Linked DNA regions of Homo sapiens. The protein of the gene in region 5 purifies or fractionates together with the protein of the main gene of each other region. This does not show direct contact. Each region holds a gene or a part of one and is shown on either strand. Other genes may lie near its edges. The genes, in order: DCAF1, PPP2R2D, PTCD3, GPN3, ZFC3H1, TBCE and ZC3H18.

Region 1 (3,500 bases), on a different chromosome or scaffold from region 5:
AGGCAGGGGTTTCATTTCTAATCTAAAACTTACTAAGAATTCAAAAATATCTGTGGTGCTAATGACATCTTTCTCAATGTCACATTTAGCCCTTATACATTTTTCCCATACAGCTCAGAACTATATTATCATACTTTTAGATTCTAACTAGAAGGAATATCACTGATTTCTAGTTGCCCAAAGGACTTAGGTCCTCACATTCTATCAAGAAGATTTCAGTATGAACAAATGGGTATGATCAGCTTGAAAACAGTGGTTCTTAAGTACTTACGTGGGCAATGTCTCCTTTTGTGCCGATGACCCGATCCTGGGAGTGCTTACTGAACTCAACATAGTGATCTTCTGTGAAGGAATGCCTATGGACAAACAACAGGAGCACTGAAGTGACAGATCTTCAGGACATATTCCTGCAACCAACTGAAACACAGGTGACCCCCAGCCTCTTGCACAATCACACTCACCTAAAGATCCTGGACTCCCAAAGAGGAAACAATCATACACTTAGATTACAAAGAAAATTCCTTCTATCACCTTAACCAAGCAGATACAAAATAATGAATGGGAATTCCTTAGAGAAATGACAAACAGGGCACATGTGCCTTTGAAACACGCAGCAAAGGGGCCAGGCATGGTAGCTCACTCCTACAATCCCAGCACTTTGAGAGGCTGAGGCAGGTGGATTGTCTAAGCTCAGGAGTTCGAGACCACCCTGGGCAACATGTCGAAACCCTATCTCTATCAAAAATGCAAAAAATTAGCCAGGCGTGGTGGCATATGCCTGTGGTCCCAGCTACTCAGCAGGCTGAGATGAGAGGATCACTTGAGCCTGGGAGGTGGAGGTTGCAGTAGGTCATGTTTGTGCCACCGCACTCCAACCTAAGTGACAGAATGAGACCCCGTCTAAAGAAGGAAAGAAAAGAAAAGGCCAGGTGCGGTGGCTCAGGCCTGTAATCCCAGCACTTTGGGAGGCCAAGGCCAGCGGATCACAAGGTCAGGAGATCAACACCATCCTGGCTAACACAGTGAAACGCTGTCTCTACTAAAAATATAAAATATTAGCCAGGTGTGGTGGCGGGCGCCTCTAGTCCCAGCTGCTCGGGAGGCTAAGGCAGGAGAACGGTGTGAACCCGGGAGGCGGAGCTTGCAGTAGGCTGAGATCGCGCCACTGCACTCCAGCCTGGGCGACAGAACGAGACTCTGTCTCACAAAAAATAAAAAAAAGAAAAAAAAAAGGAAAGGAAAGGAAAGGAGAGGAGAAGAGAGGAGAGAGAAAAGGAGGGGAGGTGAGGGGGGAGGGGAGGGGAGAGGAGAGGAGAGGAGACACAGCAAAGACTGCAATGTCCTATGTGAACATGGGAAAATACATAGATTCTGGGTCGGGGTCTGCTGCATAATGAGAATGTATATACCTCATAAAAGTATCTAGGAATTAAGAAAGATAAAGTCTTATTAAACATGAGTCTTAGATGAGGAAGAGAGAAGTTAACAATAACCGACAGCATCCTCTTTCCCCAAAAGGCTTCCAGTCTAAGAACCAAATGAAGGGGGGTATAAACTAGGTAAATAAAGCACAGACTAGGTTCCAAAAGCAGATACATACTTCATATCAAATACTGACTTCATTCCCCAAAGTGCAGACAAAGGCTGGCTCCAAGTAGCAGATGTCAGCAGCAAGGACCCATCCTAAAAGAAAAAGGCGCAAGGTGGGTAACCACGTATTTACATACATGCAGATGTCACTACCTGCCATTAGCATTTTTAAAGATTTGCATAAAAATGTTGTTGAATTAAAGAGACAATTTTATAATCCCCAGAAACCAAGAAATGGTCAGAAGCCACTAGGATTTGAATACATACACCTATAGTGTCCTATAAAATAACCAAACTTAAGAGAATATTAAATCCTACTGAACTAGCCACAAAAATAGAATAGATAAAAGGGAGGGGGGAAAATGAGAAGATGTCAAAGATGGTTCCTTTCTTCCTACTAACTTTGCCATATTCCTCAGTCTCCATCTGAAATATGAATTAACCTCAACTAGACTTTCCAGTTGAGGACTCATTTAAAAGAGAGAGCTCAATAAAGGGTAAGCCTCCTTTACTCTAGTTCACCAATTCATCTTGGAAGAATGACTGAGAGCATCCTAGGAAGGAACCCTTACCCTGGAAGGTTCAAGATGTGTGATGGCTGAGTTGTGACAGTTATAGCTGGCCTCCTCCTGTCCACTAAACACATTATAGAGCTTCAGCTGCCCTGTGCAGGTGCCAAGCATCAGGAACCGCTCCCGTGCTGAGAATGCACAGCAGGTGAAGCCACTCTCATCTTCATTGGCTTCCCGGAACACTGAAATAGGACGGAATCTAAGCAAAAAAAAGAGAGAATCACAGGCAAAGAATGTGCAGGGACTCAGAAAAAGCAAACTGCTAGGATAGAAGAAAAAGCACAGAACATTAATGTTTCAAATGGCTTCTTCCAAAATCACAGTGACCTTCAGTGCTTTTTATTTTAAATAAGAAAAAGATTTCCACTTACAAATTTAAATAACAAAAATTCCCATGTTTAGGCCAGACACAGTGGCTCATGCCTATAATCCTAGCACTTTGGGAGGCCGAAGGGGGGGTATCAATTGAGGTCAGGAATTCAAGACCAGCCTGGCCAACATGGTAAAACCCCATCTCTACTAAAAATGCAAAAATTAGCTAGATATGGTGGTGCCTGCCTGTAATCCCAGCTACTCAGGAGGCTGAGGCAGGAGAATCACTCGAACCTAGGAGGCAGAGGTTGCAGTGAGCCAAGATAGCACCACTGTACTCCAGCCTGGGCGATAGAGAGACTCCGTCTCCAAAAAAAAAAAAAATTCCCATGTTTAAAACCTGTGATCCCGTAACCTTTATGTAAGATTTGTCAAGAATCAGAACAGGAAGCAACTTGCACCAGCACAAGTTTGGGAGCCTCCTTATGGACAGTAGTAATGAGGGGGTGTGGGTTCTAGAAAACATACTAGTTGAGATGAGAACACAAACGATTATATCAATATACTGCCAACAATCACACAAGGAACCCATGGTTGACAAAAGGTGGTACAATTACATTGTTCAAGTATTACACAAAGTAACAATCAGTGGTATTTCAGGACAACTATGCTGATACTGCCCAGTTTGATTTAAATAAAAGAATCATTCCAATTCCCAGGGAGTAAGAAGGGGCCTCTTCTTACCTGCTAAAGATAAGGTGCCTATCAAAGCATCCGCCATCCACCCCTCCATACTTTGGAAATGATGCCCTGCGGTTTAGCCTTGACGTAAAGTTTATTGGCGCTTGCCGCCTCTGTTTTGGCTCAGGACATTGGTGAGGAGTAAAGAGGGAGAAAGGTGGGCAGGTGGCAACTGGATTCTTGCAGCGAGCATGTTGTTCTCTAAGATACTCTGTGATTATACTGTCCAGCGTAGGTGGGGAAGGAAGATGTCTGTCCAGCTGTTTTTTTATGGCTGGGCTTTGG
Region 2 (3,500 bases), on a different chromosome or scaffold from region 5:
CCCCCTGCACACCCGCAAGTCACTAAGACAGTGAACCCCCGCACACTCGCAAGTCACTGATAAGACAGGGACCCCCCCCGCAAGTCACTGCTAAGACAGTGAACCCCCCACACACACCCGCAAGTCACTGATAAGACAGGGACCCCCCCCGCAAGTCACTGCTAAGACAGTGAACCCCACACACACACCCGCAAGTCACTGCTAAGTGAACCCCCTGCACACCCGCAAGTCACTAAGACAGTGAACCCCCCGCACACCCGCAAGTCACTAAGACAGTGAACCCCGCACACCCGCAAGTCACTAAGACAGTGAACCCCCACACACCCGAAAGTCACTAAGTGAACCCCCCCGCACACCCGCAAGTCACTAAGACAGTGAACCCCCCGCACACCCGCAAGTCACTAAGACAGTGAACCCCCCGCACACCCGCAAGTCACTAGTGAACCCCCCGCACACCCGCAAGTCACTAAGACAGTGAACCACCCGCACACCCACAAGTCACTAAGACAGTGAACCCCCCCGCACACCAAGTCACTAAGACAGTGAACCCCCGCACACCCACAAGTCACTGCTAAGACAGTGAACCCCCGCACACCCGCAAGTCACTAAGACAGTGAACCCCCGCACACCCGCAAGTCACTAAGACAGTGAACCCCCCCCACACATGCAAATCACTAAGACAGTGAACCCCCCGCACACCCGCAAGTCACTAAGACAGTGAACCCCCGCACACCCGCAAGTCACTGCTAAGACAGGGACCCCCCAAGTCACTGCTAAGACAGTGAACCCCCCCGCACACCCGCAAGTCACTGCTAAGACAGTGAAACCCCCTGCACACCCGCAAGTCACTGCTAAGACAGTGAACCCCCCCGCACACCCGCAAGTCACTGCTAAGACAGCGAACCCCCCTGCACACCCGCAAGTCACTGTTAAGACAGGGACCCCCTGCAAGTCACTGGTAAGGTGGTGAACCCCCTGCACACCCGCAAGTCACTGCTAAGAGAGTGACCCCTCTGCACACCAGCAAGTCACTGCTAAGACAGGGACCCCCCTGCACTGTGTTGCCACTCTGGAAAGAAAGATGGTCTCCTATCCCATCCCCAGTTGGGGTCCTCACTTGCTAGAGTACATATGTGTCATCCCCACACACATTTATATTTTGTATACAGATTTTTTTTGTTTTTTTTTGAGACAGAGTCTCACTCTATCGCCCAGGCTGGAGTGCAGTGGCACAATCTCAGCTTACTGCAACCTCCACCTCCAAGGTTCAAGCGATTCTCCTGCCTCAGCCTCCTGAGTGGTGGGATTAAAGGCATGCACCACCATGTCCGGCTAATTTTTGTATTTCTAGTAGAGATGGGGTTTCACTATGTTGGTCAGGCTGCTCTCGAACTCCTGACCTCGTGATCCGCCCTCCTCAGCCTCCCAAAGTGCTGGGATTACAGGTGTGAGCCACTGCGCCTGGCCAATAGTTACAGATTCTTAAAACAAAACCGTCTTGTATGTCTTAAACATGTTGTATGTCATTGCACCGTACGCATTCCTCCTGAATTTTCTTTGTGGATTATCTTTGTGAGATCCACCTAGGTGATCCATGTAGTTCTAATAATTGATTCTCACTGCTTTTCAGTATATGTTATGATAGAGAACAACTTACCTGTCCATTCCTCTAATGATGCACCTGTGGGCTGTCTCCAGTTGTTTGCTATTTCAGGTATCTGAGCACGTTTTCTTGTCTGAACATGCAAGAAGCTCCCAACCCGACTGAATGTCACCAAGGAGGTCACAAGAAGGGTACTGGGTAAGACCACTGGTCTCCACCCTCTCCCCCAAACCATCATCATTCTGATGGGCATGAAAGGACGTCCCTCTGGCTTTACTTGCTGATCACTAAGAAGGATGAGCATTTCTATTTATTTTTCCATTTCTGCGAAACCCCATTCATGGTTTTTGCTCTTTTCTGAGTTGTTTGCCACCTTCTTGTTGACAACTAATTCTGCACCTATTCTGGATACTTAATCTCTGTTCGTTATCCTTTTGTGGATTTTGTTTTCACTTTTAATTTCAATATAAAGAAGTTTAAAATTTAATGTAGTTGAATTTCTTAATGTTTTCCTTGGGCTTTTGGGGCCTTCTTAAAGAAGCCCTTGTTTCCAGAGCTCACAAAGATGTCTTAGGCTTAGAAACACTCAGAGCTTATTTATTTATTGTGTGGGGCTGGTGAGGGCTCTAATTTTTCTCCCCCAAACACAGATAACTAAGGCCGTCCAGGTGGCAGAGCTTCAGAGTTTGCACTGCTCTTCCCTGCAGGCTGCGTTCCTCTGCCTATCTGTCTCAGCCCCTTTCTGCAGGGCCAGGCTCCCTTTACAGCTCGCTCTACTGAGTTTCCTGTTGTGATACATTGTTTCCCATTTGAAAATGCCTTTATCACAAGCAGATTCTTGAACGAGCATCTACTTCAAGGCTTGATTCTAAGCTGGCGGTGGAGAGTAAGGAGTCACACTTGCTGGATCTGTCACACGGCTTCTGGCTCCCACTGTGGCCGTGGCAAAGCCGAGTCTCAGTCTCGGTGTCCGCTCTCAGAGGTAATTTGCGTTTTTTCCTTGGGTGCATTTAAGATATTCTCTTTGCGTTTGGTGTCCTGCAATTTCATTATGAGATGGATGGATGCTGTGCTCCCGATCCTGTGTATTCAGGCTTTCATAATTTAGAGAAAATTGCTGGCCACTGTCACTTTAAGCCTCACACCCCCAAACTTTGTTTAAACGTGTGCTGTGCCTCACCCTGGCCTCCACGGTTCCTAGTGTCTCTTGTTTTCTGTTTGGCTCTTTAGCCCGCATTTCTTCTGGTTTTCCTTTCCATCCACTAATACAAGATCTGTTTAGCCAAAATGGACCTGCTGCTAAACCCACACAGTTTCATCTGTCATACTTGTCATTTCTAGATGTTCTCTGACTCCTTTCCAGTCTCCACGTCATGTTTGGCGGTCATGTATCATACTTGTCATTTCTAGATGTTCTCTGACTCCTTTCCAGTCTCCACGTCATGTTTGGCGGTCATGTATCATACTTGTCATTTCTAGATGTTCTCTGACTCCTTTCCAGTCTCCACGTCATGTTTGGCGGTCATGTATCATACTTGTCATTTCTAGATGTTCTCTGACTCCTTTCCAGTCTCCACGTCATGTTTGGCGGTCATGTATCATACTTGTCATTTCTAGATGTTCTCTGACTCCTTTCCAGTCTCCACGTCATGTTTGGCGGTCATGTATCATACTTGTCATTTCTAGATGTTCCCTCTGATTCCTTTCCAGTCTCCAGGTCACGTTTAGCGGTCATGTGGCTCCTGGTTCAGGCTGTTTCCTTCCTCTAGTCTGTGAATATCTCAAGCATTCTTAGTTTATCTTCTTTAACTTAGGATCTCAACAGCTGCCTTCTCGGAGGTTCAGTTCTGCTGTGGTTCTGCTGACTTGCTCACGGTGGCTTTTCCTGTATGTGCTT
Region 3 (3,500 bases), on a different chromosome or scaffold from region 5:
TCCGCCTCCCGGGTTCAAGCGATTCTCCTGCCTCAGCCTTCCGAGCAGCTGGGACTAACGCCCTCGCCACCACGCCTGGCTAATTTTTTGTATTTTTAGTAGAGGAGGGGTTTCCCCATGTTGGTCAGGCTGGTCTTGAACTCCTGACCTCGTGATCTGCCCGCCTCGGCCTCCCAAAGTGCTGGGACTACAGGCATGAGCCACTGCACCCGGCTAAAAATGTTTTTTGCTAGTAATCATTTGTGTTCCCTTTAAATATAATCAGAATGAGGTCAAGAAAAAGTAAACTAGAATTAATGGACAGGGCAGTTCTTAAATATAACATGAACTGAGCACTAATAGGTCAGAAAATCATCTGCAATATTCCCAGTCAAATATTTCTCTACACTCCTTTCCCTACCTGTTTTGTATGTTTGTGGTAGTAAAGCTGTAATGACAGTACAGATAGAGTTTCACAATTTACTCAAGCATGCTTCCCTTTGCTAATATTCTTAATTTTATTAGTTACATAATATTCTCTTTTCAATGTATTGTTTCTAGGTTATTTTAGGCTCTCTCTTTTGGGTAAATTCCTAGAAATTATTATTACTATTGAGACAGGGTCTTGCTCTGTCACCTAGGCTGGAGTGCAGTGGGGCAAACGCAGCTTACTGCAGCTTCAACCTCCTGGCCACAAGCAATCCTCCTGCCTCACACTCCTGAGTAGCTGGGACTACAGGGGTGCGCCACCATGCCCAGCTACTTTTTTCATGTTTAGTAGACATGGAGGTCTCTCTATGTTGGTTTCAAACTCCTGGGCTCAAGCAATCCTCCTGCCTTGGCTTCCTAAATTGCTGGGATTACAGGCGTAAGCCAAAACTACTGCTGCAGACAGGCAAATTTATATACATAAGACAAACCAACACAGCTCCCCCAGAACCCCCATCCCCCAGTCCTGGCTGTTACTTAGGAAATGTAAGTACATCTGACTTTGATTAGCAATTGAACCAGTGATGAGAGTTACAGAGGAAAGGAATATACTTTGGAGTCAGAAATACTAGCTCCATCACAATCTCACCAAGGTTGAGTAAAATTTTAGGGGACACAATTATGGAAACTGTTTACCTGTTTCCAAGGTATAGTCAATTAACTGGTTCCTTTTCCTAAAGATAAAATTTGCCTATACAGGTGAGGATATGGATTTTACAAAATTAGTCCTCCAAACCAGAGAGAAACAACTTCCCTTCTGTAATTTTTATAGTCTATCCACAAGAAAGAATGACTAGAACTGTCAATTCTGAACTCAAGGGTTATTTCTCAGGCTGGGGATAATGGACAAGAACCAAAAGATTTTGAGTGCCTCATATGTGCCCTCCAAGCACAGTAGCAGACACAGTGTGGAACTCATTTAACTACCACACCCTGCTGCTATTCCTCAGGTAGGTATCTAGTCGCTTTGACATAGCTGGTAAATAAATGGTAGAGTGGACATCTCAGCTCAGGTGTGTCTCTCTTCAAAGTCCATCTACTACAGAGCAGAGCTCCCACTGGAACTGACCTAAAAGTGGACAACGCATGGAGCCTTGAGGTCCTCCCAAAACGCTTCACAATAAGTTTACCTTTCCTCTGGAGCAGAAACGTCCACAAACTTTTGGCAAAGATGGAAATGTTCTGAATCTGCATCACGACACATGGTAGCCACTAGACACATGGCTACTGAGCACCAATGTGACAAAATAATTTATTATTTTACTTAATTTTAATTAACTGGCCACATGTGGCTAGTGGCTATGGTGTTAAATAGCACAGCTCCAGAGAACAAAAGGAATTTCAACCAAAATATATTCTACCCAATTCCTGTTTGTACAACATCACTGCCAGTACAATCCATAACCCTCTCCCCTCCAGCTCAAGTTTTAGACCACAAACAAGATTGCTACCCTCAAGAATAATTTTAGGTAGTAAGACCCTGTCCAAAAAAAAAAAAAAAAAATCAGCTAGGCATGCTGGTGGGCATCTGTAATCCTAACTACTCAGGAGGCTGAGGAGGGAGGACTGTTTGAGCCCAGGAGTTCAAGGCTGCAATGGGCAAGATCCTGTATCTAAAAAAACCACAACTTTCTGCTCAGGCTGTACAGGTTAATTTACAAATTCTCTCTTCTTAATTCATATGCAGAGAAGATAACTACAACAATTAATCACATAAACTCAAGAAAGCTGGTCAATTTTCTATATAAATTAACACAATTTAAGGCCATACATACCAGGTTGATCAAACAGGCGAATAATATGGTGATATGTTGCAAGCGAGGGTTCTCAAATTACCAGGTAGACAGAAAAAATAAACAATGAGGTAAAAACACAGCAATCCAAAACATAGTTTACTGAGACACACTGAATTAAAAACATATTGTTAATATTTAAGCAAAATATGCATTTCTATTCCTTTGAACAAAGTTATTTTCCAACTCATTAATGTAAAGGTAAAAAACTATCACAAAGACTGTATCACTTTTTGAAAGTCCAAATACTTATTAGTCACATTCTTCACTGAGAACAGTAAAATATATTGAAGTGAATTGATTCCCAAAGCAACTTTCAATAAAGTAATTAATGAAAAATATACAATACACTAGCACACACTTAGGTTCAAATACCTAATTATGTTGGGAAAATGTCATGAATTTAAAACTAGCTAACTCAAAGCAATCACTTCTCCTCAGATTCAACAGATCCATAAACAAAGTACCTAAAATACTAATGAACACTAAGATGATAAAGGCACTCCCACTATAATAAGTACATGTAAGTAAATGTGCCAAACATGGAAAGAAAATTTCCAACATATTATGTAAGCACAAGAATAATTTAAAGCTCTTTGCTTATGTAGCCCTGAAACCTCTGGCTGGCACAGTCTCTGTCCTCAGAGAACTCAAGGGCGCATCCTCACCTATTCCAATGGCTTTCATTTCACGTAAAACCTGTAAGGCTGGCGATCTTGCAAACACATGAAATCTTCGGAGACATTTCAGAATGGTATTAAAAGTCTGAAGATTTGGTTTCACCTTCTGTGCAACCATGTGTCTTAGCAGCTCCTAGGTGAATAAAAAACAAGAAGTATCTTTCATGCCTGGGTAATCTGTCCAATAATCTATGTTTCATACAAAGTAAAGAATTTAGCTTTCTTGCTTATGTTTAAAGCAGGTTAGTAACTATATCCCTCTTTTAAGAACTGTTTATTAATTAGCAGGTTCCATGATTCTGCCTTTTAAAGAAGCCTGCTAATTCAAACACCCACCCCACTTGATAGAGGTGGTCAACTGTCTTCAGTCTTCTACCTAGGAGAGTTTTCCAAGAAAAGACGCAAAAATAATAGACTAGTATGATATAAAAAAGTGGTTGGTTTTTTTTTTTTTTTGAGACAAAGTTTCGCTCTTCTTGCCCAGGCTGGAGTGCAGTGGTGCGATCTTGGCTCACTGCAACCTCTGCCTCGTGGGCTGAGGTGATTCTCCTGCCTCAGC
Region 4 (3,500 bases), about 39 Mb from region 5:
ATAGCTTGAGCCCAGGACTTTGAGAGCAGCCTGAGCAATATAGTGAGATCCTATCTCTACAAAAATAAATAAATAAGTGCTACAAAGATATCTATAGTTTGGGAATATTCATCAAGCTGTATACTTATGACATATATACTTTTCTGTGGGTATATGTATGGTCAATTAAAAGCAAGGGGAAAAAAGTGAGGGCCATAAATGGTCAAAGCCAGGTTAGGCTCAAGTTGAAAATTCACAATTTGGGCTGGAGGTGGTGGCTCACACCAGTAATCCCAGCATTTGGGAGGCCGAGGCAGGTGAATCACCTAAGGTCCAGAGTTTGAGACCAGCCTGGCCAACACAGTGAAACCCTGTCTCTACTAAAAATACAAAAATAGCCGGGTGTGGTGGTGGGTGCCTGTAATCCCAGCTACTTGGGAGACTGAGACAGGAGAATCACTTGAACCCAGGAAGTGGAGACTGGAGTGAGCCGAGATGGCGCCATCATACTCCAGCCTGGGTGACAGGAATGAAACTCAGTCTCAAAAAAAAGAAAAAAAAAAAAGAAAATTCACGATTTGGCTTCAGAAGCCATGATGTGCTATTATCTGTCTCCTACCAGTCACACCTCATGACAATTGCCTCTTTGTTTATTATGCTCCAGCCACACTGGCCTTTTCAGTGCCTTAAAACAGCTTTGTTCCTTCCTCCTGGGAGGTGTTCAGCAGGCTGTGCCCTCTGCCTTCCTCACCCTCAGCCTCCAGCCCAGCTGAAAGGCCGCCTCAGATGCCTCTCTAACCGCCATTATCTGTGTGATGATCTGTGCTACTCCTGTGGAATACTCAATGACAACTGAATATTAAATAATCATTTGGATGCTTTTTGTTTGTACTGTCTCGAGTTCTGCCAAATGTGAGCTCCATGAGGCCAGAGACCATGGCCATCTGTGCTCTATGGTATTCCCAGTGTACAAAGCAAGCACTTAATAGATATACTTTTTTTTGTTTTTTTTTTTTGTTTTTGAGACAGAGTCTCATTCTGTTGCCCAGGCTGGAGTGTAGTGGTACAATCTTGGCTCACTGCAAGCTCCACCTCCCAGGTTCATGCCATTCTCTTGCCTCAGCCTCCCGAGCAGCTGGGACTACAGGCGCCCGCCACCATGCCTGGCTAATTTTTTGTATTTTTAGTAGAGACAGGGTTTCACCATGTTAGCCAGGATGGTCTCGATCTCCTGACCTCGTGATCCACCTGCCTCGGCCTCCCAAAGTGATGGGATTACAGGCGTGAGCCACTGCGCCCGGCCTCAACAGATATACTTAGTAAGTGACAGCCATTGAATAAGCTTGGTACTTTACTGCAGTATAGTTTAGAGCTACAAATACTCACTCTCCTTTCTCCTACTAAGGATGGAACTATCAAGACTTTAAGGAAGACAATGCATTCAAATTGTTGATTCACCTGGACAATCAAAAAGGATATAGTCGTCCTCTACATGGCCAAGACAGTTCTCCAGCCAGTCAAAATTATTGGCAAAGTACTCCATGCAAAATACCAATCCTCCGTTGGGACCGAATCGCAGAGAATCATCCTCCATTACATCATCCACCTCGATCAGTTCCCGGATGTCTGAAAAGGACAGATAGGGCCCAGAATATATGTGTCCCTTCAAAAATTGTTATCCTTACTAGAAATAGAACATAAAAGTTAATAATTACATAAAAAACCCATATGCAGGAAATTATTTATGTACATGGCTTTTCCCTGTAGCAGTGTCCATCAATAGAGAACTGAGCAAATAAATTATTGTACAGCCCGACAATGGAATACTACACAGCCATAAATGGGGAAAATCTCTTTAAGTATTAATAATAATACAATCTCCTAGGTATATTGTTCAGTGAAAAATGCAAGGTGCAGAACTGTGTAAGAATGCTATCATTGGTGTTAATAAAAGACAAAAATTCACTACATAGACATAATACATATACATCTTGAATTTTATGTGCACAGGCTATGAAAGAACACACCAGAAACTGGTAACACTGGCTGCTGCCAGGGAGGGGAGCTGATTGCTGGGATGCAGAGCTGAGAGGAAGATGTTTTCCTGTATACTTACTCTTTAGTACTTTTACATTATGAACCATGTGAATATGTATTACCTATTCCAAAAAAGTACAAAACCAAAAAAAGAAAACAGATTACCATTTCTTAACACAATGACACTAAGGAAACTATTTCACCTCCTTGAGCCTCACTTTCCTTATCCTGGGTTAGAAGGATGAGAACTATGAGATAATATATCAAAATCACCATCAGGGGCTGGGTGCGGTGACTCCTGCCTGTAATCCCAGCACTTTGGATGAGGCAGGCGGATCACTTGAGGTCAGGAGTTCAAGACTAGCCTGGCCAACATGCTGAAACCTGTCTCTACTAAAAATATAGAAATTAGGCTGGGCATGGTGGCTCATGCCTGTAATCCCAGCACTTTGGGAGGCCGAGGTGGGGGGATCATGAGATCAGGAGTTCGAGACCAGCCTGGCGAACATGGTGAAGCCCCATCTCTACTAAAAATACAAAAATTAGCAGGCATGGCGGCGCACGCCTGTAGTTCTAGCCACTCCGGAGGCTGAGGCAGGAGAATCACTTGAACCCAGCAGGCAGAGGTTGCAGTGAGCCAAGATCACGCCACTGCTCTCAAGCCCAGGCGACAGAGCAAGACTCCATCTCACTTTCCAACTTGGACCCAGCAGAATGGCTCCTGCAAAGAAGGGTGGCGAGAAGAAAAAGGGCCATTCTGCCATCAACGAAGTGGTAACCCGAGAATACACCATCAACATTCACAAGCACATCTATGGAGTGGGCTTCAAGAAGCGTGCCCCTCAGGCACTCAAAGAGATTCAGAAATTTGCCATGAAGGAGATGGGAACTCCAGATGTGCGCATTGATACCAGGCTCAACAAAGCTGTCTGGGCCAAAGGAATAAGGAATGTCCCATACTGAATCCGTGTGCAGCTGTCCAGAAAACGTAATGAGGATGAAGATTCACCAAATAAGCCATATACTTTGGTTACCTATGTACCTGTCACCACTTTCAAAAATCTACAGACAATGTCGATGAGAACTAATCACTGATCGTCAAATACATCAAATAAAGTTATAAAATTGAAAAAAAAAAAGACTCCATCTCAAACAAAAACAAACAAAAATAGAAAAATTAGTCAGGTGTGCTGGCATGTGCCTGTAATCCCAGCTGCTCGGGAGGCTGAGGCAGGAGAATCACTTGAACCCAGGAGGCAGAGGATGTAGTGAGATGACATGGTACCACTGCACTCCAGCCTGGGTGGCAGAGAGAGACTGTCTCAGGAAAAAAAAAATCACCAACAGGAGAGGCTTAAAAAATTCTGGTATGGTTATCTTACTAATTTTGGGGAATCAGTATATAGAATCTTCTACCTTAGGTTTTTACTTATTTTTGTGCTCAAACCTACATTCTCCATTCACAAAGGACTGAGCTTCATTCA
Region 5 (3,500 bases):
AAAAATGTTTCCTGGCAGTCATTATAATTTTATAGAGGCAATTTAAGATAAATTTAAAAGAAACAATTTTTTCAGGTGTTTTGCAAAAGCTACACTTAACTTTGCCCAAACTAAAACTGTGTAAAAATAGGTAAGTGTGAAATTTTTAACAATTTTACATTTTTTCTTTACCAATAAAGTTAACAACAACAAAAAAATCACCTCTTCACTAAATATTTTCTTCTTGCTTAGTCTAAATTCTGATCCAGAAGTGGCTTTGTGGTTACTAGAAACTGAAAGTAAGGTTATTATGTCTATATTCAGATAAAGCATATGCTCTATTAAGCTACTTATCAATTTTTAAGATGATCCAAATAATTATACACACACACACACACACACACACACACGTACGTTATCTTTTCTACTCACAGTCCAAAAGCTTTGATAATCTGGAGCATATTCAACAGCTGTTTCACACATTTCCTGCACCTCGTCCTTGGTTCCTCTTTTTGAGAACAATCTGAGGTAATGGCACCAAATTTCTGGATTGTCTTTGTTATTTTCCAATGCTCGCGCCAGAACATTTAAAGCAGAATCCAAGGATTCTGAGCACTCCCTGTATATATAAAAGAAAAGGTGGAAGTGCTTTTTAGAACCTGCTTGAAAATTTAAATAGGGCTAATCCAATGAGTCAATTTTAAAATTCCATTTTCTACTAGAATTTACCAAGAAGTCAGGATCACTTATGAAAAGGGGTACTAGATTTCAGATTTTAAATCACATGCCTAAAAGTTTCTGATTTTCCACAGACCCAACAATTTTTTTAAGTGAATGTTCAGTAAGCATTTACCACAGATAAAAGTACAGTGTTATAAAACCACTAAGATTATCAACTTCAAATGTGCTTTATGTCCATATTCAGCAATACCTTTTATGATTTACACCATTTGGGAATGCGAAAAGTTAAACAACTCTCTCTCAAGGCCAGCTACTGCAAGTACAAAATATCAAAGCTTTCAGTATAATAGTTCTTTTCAACGGTCAAGGGCTTGCTATCTCTTGGAGAAGATAATTCTTTCTCATGATCCTATTCATAAAATAATGTATGGTTCTTTTGGCCTTCACTCAGTAAATGAGTCAGAAAAGAAAACACTGTAACTTATCCCATTAACATGGAAATGACACACAGGAAAGTTAAATAAGCAACACATCCAGGCATGTGTGGGTTTATTAGCACTCTGCAGCACTGCCTTATTTAAAAGCTTTAAGATAGTCAAATATTTCAAAGAAACGTGTAAAAAAAAAAAACCCTTGAATTATTGTAACTATAAAGTTATAATTATGAAAAGATTATTCTTGGCTTATTTCTACTACCAAGAAGTTAGAAGATGCCATTTGCAATACAAACTATTGGTTGTATAAGTTATTACCATTTACCTTATTTAAATACATATAATTTAATATGACAGAGACAGAAAGAAAATTCACCATAATTTGGAAGTTCTCAGATAAGCTTTAAATATCCATTACAAATTAACAAAATTTAACCTGTTCCACCATTATTTTATCATAATTTTATTAACAAACTATGACTACTATGATTTTTTTAAAAAACAATCAACCATTCCACTAGTCAGAATTTACTGTTTTAACTAATCCTACTTTGAAATAAGAGCCTACTGGAGTAAAAAACTTTAGTATAATTTATTACCCATACACTGAGCCATGCACACAAACTCAAGATCTAATCTTAAACTTGTCTAATAGCTTTTAAACAATAAAATGCTTTTGGCTTTGTCAAAAAACAAAGACTCCATTGATACTAGGAAAGAAACCTGACTGATTACCATAGGTAAAAAAACCTCAAACATAAAAATATAAATGTGCAACTGTTTACACAAAGATTTGAAGTTGACCTACCCCTCATTTTGATTCAAGTACTTGTACGCAAGCTTGAGCCAAAGTTGTACATGAGAAGGATTTTCAAGCACACTTGCTTCTAAATTAGCGATGTCATCAGTCTCATTTGTAAAGTATCTGACATCATCTGGAGTGACAACTGTATCCAGAGCTGGAACATTTATTTGGTTCTCTGGCTGGAAAGCTATTTAAAAAAAAAGTATTATTAGCTTCACATTTTCTTTAGTCCACAGATGCAAGAAAAAGAAAACAATTGGTCTCATCTTTAAAGTAACTTAAAAACCTAAAGATTCTAATGACATGTACTAGCTCACAGCTTTAAGGTAGAGCTATGACATAATTTATCACCCAAACCAGGACCCTTCTGAGTGGAAAGAGGTGCTACTAAAAATTACACCAGAACAAAAGGAGTAATTAGAACTCTGCTATTTTAAGGCTAAGTGACATTACCTTTTCAGTCCACTTAACAGTAACTATGATTCAACTGCTTTTTCATTATTATCAAATGAATTCACATTTGTTAAACTGCAAATTATAATTAAGAAATTAAAAGTCATAATTTATAAAGATTATTCTACTATATCTAAACTAGAAAAACAGTGTTACGTTAGTGTAAATAAGTACATAATAGCATACATCTCTTGGATACTTGCTAATTCACAAATAATGCAAACTTGAAATTAGAAAGTAAAATGTGCCTAACATACAGGCACTCATTCATACATTATTTTGTTCATTAGTTCATTCATCATTTGTTCATTCTCATCTTTTGAGCCTTCTGCATGTCAGAAAACATATTCAAAGATGAAGTAAAATAGAACACCTGCCCTTAAGGAGGACACAGGCTAGGCAGTGGTTCTCAAACGGGAGCTACCTTCCCCACCAACTAATGTATGTTTGGAAATATCTGAAGCAGTCATAATTATTAACTAAGCAGTGCTCCTTGCATTTACTGGAGAGGAGCCATGAACACAAATATCCCGCAATTTCAGAGGCAATCCTGCACAGTGAATTAACTGTATTGTCTAAAAACCCAATGGCATCGTTTTTAAAAAAAATTTTTTTTTAACCAGGCAGGCTGATACACCAAAGGATTAGCAAAGTGTTAAATAAAGATGGAACACCACAATTTAATAATTCTGGATCTTAAATTACATAACTTCTTACCATACTTAATTGGTCCTGTAGACTGTTCCTCATCACTACTGAAGCTATTATCTGAAATAGGTTTTCTCCAAAACTTTGGCTTCCACTTTCTTTTATCTTTGTAGGTTGTAAATGGAGGAGCTAAAGTAGATAGGAGAAGATTGTTAATTGATATAACTAGTTTTTTTTTTAACATTTTGAAGGATACTCAAATAATATTTGAGAAGAACTACATTCACTCCATCTTAGAAATGATACGTATTTTTTTTTTTTTTTTGAGATGGAAGTCTCACTCTGTCACCCAGGCTGGAGTGCAGTGAGTGCAGTGGCGCGATCTCAGCTCACTGCAACCTCCGCCTCTCGGGTTCAAGTGATTTTCCTGCCTCAGCCTCCCAAGTAGCTGAGGCTGCAGGCACACGCCACCACCACCCGGCTAATTTTTCTATTTTTAG
Region 6 (3,500 bases), on a different chromosome or scaffold from region 5:
AACGTGGTGAAAACCCATCTCTACTAAAAATACAAAAAATTAGCCAGGCGTGGTAGTGCACGTCTGTAATCCCAGCTACTTGGGAGGCTGACGCAGGAGAATCATTTTGGCCCAGGAGGCAGAGGTTGCAGTGAGCCAATATCACACCACTGCACTCCAGCCTAGGCAACAGAGCAAGACTCCATCTCAAAAACCAAATAGTTGAGATGACGCCCTTGGCCATGGCCAATTAGAGAATGGAATCATCTGACTCACCCATCCTGCAAACAGTCCTGCAGATAGCACAGGTTTTAAACTGGCTGTTAAACCTGCCCGTGACCTCACTGGCCTTGGCCACGTTCATCCGCATGGATGTGTGGTCCTTGGCACTGATGATGCAGTTGCTGGTGGAGCATTTCTGCAGCACGCACAGATCCACGAACTTGCTGGCGTCTTTCTGCATGTCGAGACCGTGCCTGCTGCCACCACACTGCGCATGAGCCTAATTTTTTTTTTTTACAAAAAAAAAAATTACAAAAAATTATTATATATTATATAATTATGTATAATAATATATAATATATATATAGCATCTACAGGATCTCTCTATGTTGCCTAGGTGGGTCTTGAACTCCTGGCCTCAAGTGATTCTCCTGCCTGGGCCTCTCAAAGTGCTGGCTGGAATTATAGGCGAGAGCCACCATGACCAGCCTCACCAACTATTTCTAAATTTTCTCACTGGAACTTTACTGCCATCTCCACCACTTCAATTTCTGTGTGCCCTTCCTAGTTTATTTGGAGGGTGAGATGCGTCTTGCTCTGTCACCCAGGCTGGAGTGCAAAGGTGCAATCCTAGCTCACTGCAGCCTCAAACTCCTGGGCTCAAGTGATCCTCCCACCTCAGCCTCCCAAAGCGCTGGGATTGCAGGTGTGAGCCCCAGTGCCAGTGTCTGGCCCCTTCTTGTCTTCCAGCTACATCTACACCTTGAGAGGGAGTAAGCGCCTCACAGAGGAGGGGCCCTAGGAAAGAGGCTCCATGGCCACGGGCATATTAAGGGCACAAGGGGCCCACCTGTCTCTCACTGAGTGGCCTCTGTGGCACTTCCTGGGTGAACATGGCTGGGAATGTATTTCTACACCCTTGGTTTGAAAGTGGAATGCCCAAGCTGGGCACAGTGGCTCACGCCTGTAATCCCAGCATTTTGGGAGGCTGAGACAGGCAGATCATTTGAGGTCAGGAGTTCAAGACCATCCTGGCCAACATGGTGAAACCCTGTCCCTACTAAAAATACAAAAATAAGCTGGGCATGGTGGCAAGCGCCTGTAATCCCAGCTACTTTGGAGGCTGAGGCTGGAGAATTGCTTGAACCCAGGAGACGGAGGTTGCAGTGAGCCGAGATCATGCCACTGCACTCCAACTTGGGCAACAGAGCGAGACTCTGTCTCAAGAAAAATAAATAAATAAAAATGAAAGTGGGCTGGGCACGGTGGCTCACGCCTGTAATCCCAGGACTTTAGCAGGCCGAGGTGGGTGGATCACCTGAAGTCAGGAGTTCGAGACCAGCCTGACCAACATGGAGAAACTCTGTCTCTACTAAAGATACAAAATTAGCTGGGCATGGTGGTACATGCCTGTAATCCCAGCTACCTGAGAGGCTGACGCGGAAGAATCACTTGAACCTGGGAGGCGGAGGTTGCAGTGAGCCGAGATTGCGCCACTGCACTCCACCTTGGGCAACAGAGTGAGACTCTGTCTCAAGAAAAATAAATAAATAAAAATGAAAGTGGGCTGGGCACGGTGGCTTACACCTCTAATCCCAGCACTTTGGGAGGCCGAGGCGGGCAAATCACTTGAGGTCAGGAGTTCGAGACCAGCCTGACCAACATGGAGAAACCATGTCTCTACTAAAAATGCAAAATTAGCTGGGTGTGATGGCACATGCCTGTAATCCCAGCTACTTGGGAGGCTGAGGTGGGAGAATCGCTTGAACCTGGGAGGCAAAGGTTGCAGTGAGCCAAGGTTGCACCATTGCACTCTAGCCTGGGCAACAAGAGTAAAACTCCGTCTCAAAAAAAAAAAAAAAGAAAGTGGAATGCTCTGGGTGTGTGAAGTCAGTACACCTCAGACAGGAAATAGTACTGCCAGATATAAGTCCCAAATGCTGCTGTGCCAAGGACCCACAAGTCTACTTTTGAGCCCGGCTGTATAAAATGAACAGTGGATTCCAAGAGCCGAACTTCTAACAAGAAAAGTATGTGAGAACCTTTCTGCTGCTTGGCTTCTGTTCTAAAAAAAACTAACAGGAAAACTCAGGAAGCTAGTCAATAGCCAACACTACGGCTTTTTGAAGCTCAGCACATACTGGTTCATACCATAACGGAGCGCCACTGTTTATAAAGGCACCAGAACAAGTCAAAATGAGCTGAGATAGGACATGGATTTCCAGATGCAAAACTCAACTATGATGCTCTTTTAACTCGTTTTTATAAGGCACTTTAATGAATCTTGTTATCTATTAATAGATACTGGGATGATTTAAATGAAGCCACAGTTGTACTATTAAACTGTACTAACAATTCTCTATTAAACCAAACATTTTTAATTGCTTATTAATGTGTAATAAAACAAAGAAATATGATTACCTCAGCCCACGTTATTCCTGTTTGATTGAGGACTAAAACCTTCAGTACAGAAAGCGTTCCAGTTAATACTGAACCGGAGGGAAATTTTAGTTTATTTTCACTGTGTAGAAAAAAAAGATACAATGTACTTATTTCTATACAGTAAACCCAACTGAAATAGTTGTTGAAAGCAACAATCTGGGTTTTAATCTAAGGGGTTTGATTTGTTTCAATCTTAAAATGGAATTATATTTTAAAAATCACTTTTTTAATGATTCAAGTGAATCAAGACTACCTAATTTTTAACATTTACAACATACAACTTTTTGGTATCAGCTGTGTAAAGATGCTTTCACAGGATTAGGGCACCTGTATGCGGCTGTAGGCTTCCTAAACCCAAAACTCAGGCATTTGCAAGGTGAGCTTCCAGCTTCACAAGATATGGCTCTGGATACTGCAAAACAAAGTCCCGTTCTCCAGAGTCTTACTGATACACTGAATCATGGGCTAGAATTTTGCTTCTCTAAACATAGAGTCTGCCCTTTGGCTATGAGGATGGATGAAATTATTGCCCCTTAAATTATTTCTCAAAACCCTAATCTCAGAAAGTATTCAATCCTGACAGTCACTTTGAAAGACGATACTATTAAAAAACACAAGCCCGTATTTCCAGAAGATGAGACACCATGGGTTGAATTGCCCCCGTTTGCTCTATTTGGGAGCACAACTCATTCAGGCCTGTCTACCGGCTTTACTGTACACTCACATGTCTATGCAAAAATGGTTCAAGAATGAAAGGGGAAACCTGTGCTGGGCACGGTAGCTCACGCCTGTAATCCCAGCACTTTGGGAGGCCAAGGCAGATGGATCACCTGAGGTCAGGAGTTCAAGACTAGCCT
Region 7 (3,500 bases), on a different chromosome or scaffold from region 5:
CCATTGCACTCCAGCCTGGGCAACAAGAATGAAACTGTCTCAAAAAAAAAAAAAAAAAAAAAAATCTTTTTCTGTGGAGATGGGGTCTATGTTGCTCAGGCTGGTCAAGTCCTGGGCTCAAGCAATCCTCCTGCCTTGGCCTCCCACGGTGCTGGGATCACAGGTGTGAGCCGCCGCACCTGGCCCACAAAGCTTTTCCATGTATTCTCTTCTCAGATGTTTTTATCGGCTTCCCCACCCCCTCAGGCCGGTTCCCTCGACAGGTGTGATAGGTCACGCAGGCCCAGCCTCTGCCCTGCTGGGCTGGAAGCTGCCGGCTCCTCCCCAGGTGCAGGTGCTCTCTCAGGGTGCTGGGCATCAAGTCAGCAGGGCAGAGGCACCTCCTCCTGACCTGAGTGCCCCCGAGTTTGTGAATCTTTTTTTGGTGGGGGGAGGGGGTCTTCCTATCACGAGTCCTGGCCCATTTTCTCCTGTGTCAAAGCTTCAACCGCAGCCTTCCACAGCCCCAGGGTGACTCAGATCCAGAAGGGCCCCAGCCCACCTGTGGGAGACAGCCCAACCCACACTGGCTGCTTCTGGGACTTCCTGGCCCCGACGGGGAGGGAGAAACAGAGGCACAGGGTGATGGGGATGACCTGGATCGGGAGCTGGAACCACTATAGCTGCTACCACTGCCACTGCCGCTGCCGCTTAGCGTCCGCCTGTAATACAAGCAACAGCGGGGCTCAGGGGGCGTGGCCTCCACAGCCCCTCGCGGCCTCCCCTCCCCACCAGCAGCCCTGTGAGGTGAGCCTCCAGACTGGCCTTGCTACCACCTTGGAACAGGGCCTGGGCCTGTCTTCCTTTAGGCTCAGTGTTTTGTCAAGATAAAAAGTACAGTCTCTCGGGGGCAGCACCTTCCAGTGCAGACGGGGCCATGGCGGGAAGGCCTGTGCTCCGTGCCACGCTGTCCCTTCCCCTTCACGCTCCAGAAACACAGGCTCAGGGAGGGGACAGGGCAGGTTCCCGGGTAAGGGCTCACTGGGTGCTGCTCGGCTAGGGGGCGCTTCCCACCACCTGGCTCTGGACCCTGGCACTCTGGATTTCCAGCAGTGCCAGCATCACAGTGGCACCAAGAACACGGAAAGCCTGAGGGCCCCGGACGCCGGAGTGCTCACCTCCTGGGGGGGGTCCTGGCTGGCCGCTCCTTCCTCCTGGCTTCCCGAGGGTCTCCTGGCTTGGTGGGCTCGGGGACAGGAGCAGTGGTTTTGGTGGCCTGTGGTGGGGCTGGAGGCGGGGCCGGCTTCTTCACTGACTTCTCTCTGTGAGACAGGGAGGCTCGAGCAGGGCAGGGCTGGTGGACGGGGCCCCGCTGGCCTACATCCCCTTTCAATGGACCCACAGCTCGGGGAACGACACTGCATGCCTGTGACGCTCGGTGAGCACGCTCGTGCCTGGACACGGCTCCCCACCCATCGGTGTCAGAGTGCTTGGGAACGGCTTCAAAGCCCCCAGCAGCCCTTCCAGGCTCCCCTCTAACAGGCAAGAGCTACAGGCACCGCCAGGCAGTGGGGAGAGCAGGCTAATAGGAAGACCCCTTAAGAACACCCGGCTGCTGCCGTGTCCCCAGGGCTGTGCTCTGTCCCCAGGGTTCCCGAGGGAGTGCTGCTGTGTAAGGGTGGCCCGTGAGAACAGGAGCTGTGCCCAGTGCCTCCCAGCCCAGTCACCCCCTGGGGCCAGCCCCCTGAGGCATCCTCACCTCTTTGGTCCCAAACACAAATGAGAGATAGAGACGGAGGGAGGAGGCTGCAGCCTGTGGAGGCCTGGCCGGCCAGGACTTGCCCACAGGCTGGGCACTCACCCTGCTTTCCCGGGCGGCGGGGCCGGCTCTCCCTTGGTTCTGATGGAAGGTCTATGTGGGGAAGGTGTTGGGGACGGGGACGGGGACGAAGAGAAGGACCGGGACCTAGGGGAGTGAACAAAGGTGTCGGAAGGGGCCTGGGGGTGTTTCTTCACCAGCCCAAGCCCACTGAGGACCCACCCAGACCCATGGAGAAGGCCACGAATTTCCATTTATGTGCCTCAGTTTTAACTTCAGTTCTGGACTGTTCTGTCATCTGCTAAAAACACAGGCCCAGAGTAGACCAGAGAGCGTGGAAGGTGTCAGCATCCACTGGCGGGTCCTCCGGGAGGCGAGTGTCACGTTCATGTGTGTGCAGGACAGGAGGAGACAGGCTCCTTGGCAGTGGGGCAGCAGCACAGCTCCCATAGAAACACCCACAGGACAGGGCTGGGTCTGGCCCCTTCCTCGGCCTGTCTGCGGAGGACTGGAGTGCCTCAACTCGAGGATCTCAGGCTGTGGCCCTCAGTGACAGCACGCATCTACACAAGGACGAGGGCCCGCAAGGCTGGTGTTTGGTGGGGGACACAGGACACGACCCCCTGGCCATCCTAGTTCAGCTGCCAGCAGGGACCTTCAATACCCCAAGGGGCTACTGGCGCCACAACTAAAGCCACATCCGCAGGTGCCCTTGCTCACTGCACCTGCTGAGGGCCCTTCATGGGCCCTGGGGACATACCTGGACCGGCTTCCTGAGAACGAGCTGTGTCTGGAAGAGCGGCTGGAGTAGGAGCTGTAGGATGAAGACCGGGATCGCGACCGGGAGGAGCCGGAGCCAGAGTAGGACGATGACCGCGAAGACGACCTGGGGCGGGCGGGACGGAGCGTGGCGAGAAGTGAGAAGGGCCCTCCCTGCCCCACACGCCCTGACGCACACATGCACAGCTACACACCCACAGACGCACAGCTACACACAAGCGCACAGCTGCGCACGCGCGCACAGCTGCAGACGCGCGCACAGACGCATACAGCCTCCCCCAGACACTCTTCAGTGCCATCCCTCCTTGGTGCAGAACGGCATTTAGAAATCAAGACCTGGGCGTGGGGTGTGCCTGCTGTTACCGGGTGGCGCTGCCTGAGTGGGCAGACCCAGCTCACGTGGGTCCGTGTGTGTGTCTATCTGTTCATCTGCATCCACTTTCAGTGAAGCCTGGCCTCCCACCCACACCTCCTGTTCCTGCCGAGCATGATGGGGTCTACCCCGGCCCCCTGCTTTCCATCATCCCTCACTCGGGAGCCGGGCTCCTGTGTGCTGAGACCAGGACCGTAGGTGGAGGGGCAACAGTTTCAGGTCCAGTCTGGAGGAACAGATGGACTCACTGGGCCCCAGGTCTGTGCGTCCTCCCGCATCCAGGTGCCCCTCCCTCCAGTGTGGCCTGTGACTCCCTGGGAGCAGTCAGGCTCAGTCGCCGGGGTCTGTGCCCCATTTGGGGTCACTGCGTCAGTCCTACTTGGCATTGATGCTCTTTGCTGAAGGTATAAACGCCGGGTTAGTCCCACTGACTGGTCTGCAGGTAACGACGCCACAGCAAACAGTGGGGCTGGGGTGTTCCCCACCTGACCCAGTGAGGTACATGGTGTCAGCTGACGGCTCCAAGGTGCTGACACCCCAGCCGTCCCA

Evidence for each region.
Region 1: the proteins of ZFC3H1 (region 5) and DCAF1 purify together in Homo sapiens (affinity purification with mass spectrometry; 3 studies listed by BioGRID and IntAct, with this or other methods). This does not show direct contact.
Region 2: the proteins of ZFC3H1 (region 5) and PPP2R2D purify together in Homo sapiens (affinity purification with mass spectrometry; 2 studies listed by BioGRID and IntAct, with this or other methods). This does not show direct contact.
Region 3: the proteins of ZFC3H1 (region 5) and PTCD3 purify together in Homo sapiens (affinity purification with mass spectrometry; 2 studies listed by BioGRID and IntAct, with this or other methods). This does not show direct contact.
Region 4: the proteins of ZFC3H1 (region 5) and GPN3 purify together in Homo sapiens (affinity purification with mass spectrometry; 2 studies listed by BioGRID and IntAct, with this or other methods). This does not show direct contact.
Region 6: the proteins of ZFC3H1 (region 5) and TBCE purify together in Homo sapiens (affinity purification with mass spectrometry; 2 studies listed by BioGRID and IntAct, with this or other methods). This does not show direct contact.
Region 7: the proteins of ZFC3H1 (region 5) and ZC3H18 purify together in Homo sapiens (affinity purification with mass spectrometry; 3 studies listed by BioGRID and IntAct, with this or other methods). This does not show direct contact.

The regions. Positions count from the first base shown.
Region 1 is NC_000003.12:51,416,516-51,420,015, forward strand, and holds part of DCAF1 (DDB1- and CUL4-associated factor 1), read right to left. Parts: coding exon 3,219-3,500; intron 2,362-3,218; coding exon 2,163-2,361; intron 1,684-2,162; coding exon 1,601-1,683; intron 357-1,600; coding exon 272-356; intron 1-271. UniProt on the Homo sapiens protein: Acts both as a substrate recognition component of E3 ubiquitin-protein ligase complexes and as an atypical serine/threonine-protein kinase, playing key roles in various processes such as cell cycle, telomerase regulation and histone modification.
Region 2 is NC_000010.11:131,949,508-131,953,007, reverse strand, and holds part of PPP2R2D (serine/threonine-protein phosphatase 2A 55 kDa regulatory subunit B delta isoform), read right to left. Parts: exon of another isoform or gene 2,604-3,500; intron 1-2,603. UniProt on the Homo sapiens protein: Substrate-recognition subunit of protein phosphatase 2A (PP2A) that plays a key role in cell cycle by controlling mitosis entry and exit. Involved in chromosome clustering during late mitosis by mediating dephosphorylation of MKI67.
Region 3 is NC_000002.12:86,126,735-86,130,234, reverse strand, and holds part of PTCD3 (small ribosomal subunit protein mS39 precursor), read right to left. Parts: intron 3,075-3,500; coding exon 2,930-3,074; intron 2,295-2,929; coding exon 2,244-2,294; intron 1-2,243. UniProt on the Homo sapiens protein: Mitochondrial RNA-binding protein that has a role in mitochondrial translation.
Region 4 is NC_000012.12:110,458,258-110,461,757, forward strand, and holds part of GPN3 (GPN-loop GTPase 3), read right to left. Parts: intron 1,606-3,500; coding exon 1,438-1,605; intron 1-1,437. UniProt on the Homo sapiens protein: Small GTPase required for proper localization of RNA polymerase II (RNAPII). May act at an RNAP assembly step prior to nuclear import.
Region 5 is NC_000012.12:71,625,849-71,629,348, forward strand, and holds part of ZFC3H1 (zinc finger C3H1 domain-containing protein), read right to left. Parts: intron 3,190-3,500; coding exon 3,070-3,189; intron 2,087-3,069; coding exon 1,903-2,086; intron 599-1,902; coding exon 412-598; intron 1-411. UniProt on the Homo sapiens protein: Subunit of the trimeric poly(A) tail exosome targeting (PAXT) complex, a complex that directs a subset of long and polyadenylated poly(A) RNAs for exosomal degradation. The RNA exosome is fundamental for the degradation of RNA in eukaryotic nuclei.
Region 6 is NC_000001.11:235,429,927-235,433,426, reverse strand, and holds part of TBCE (tubulin-specific chaperone E), read right to left. Parts: intron 2,723-3,500; coding exon 2,623-2,722; intron 482-2,622; coding exon of another isoform or gene 329-481; exon of another isoform or gene 195-328; intron 1-194. UniProt on the Homo sapiens protein: Tubulin-folding protein; involved in the second step of the tubulin folding pathway and in the regulation of tubulin heterodimer dissociation.
Region 7 is NC_000016.10:88,622,403-88,625,902, reverse strand, and holds part of ZC3H18 (zinc finger CCCH domain-containing protein 18), read right to left. Parts: intron 2,685-3,500; coding exon 2,559-2,684; intron 1,946-2,558; coding exon 1,841-1,945; intron 1,302-1,840; coding exon 1,158-1,301; intron 702-1,157; coding exon 636-701; intron 1-635.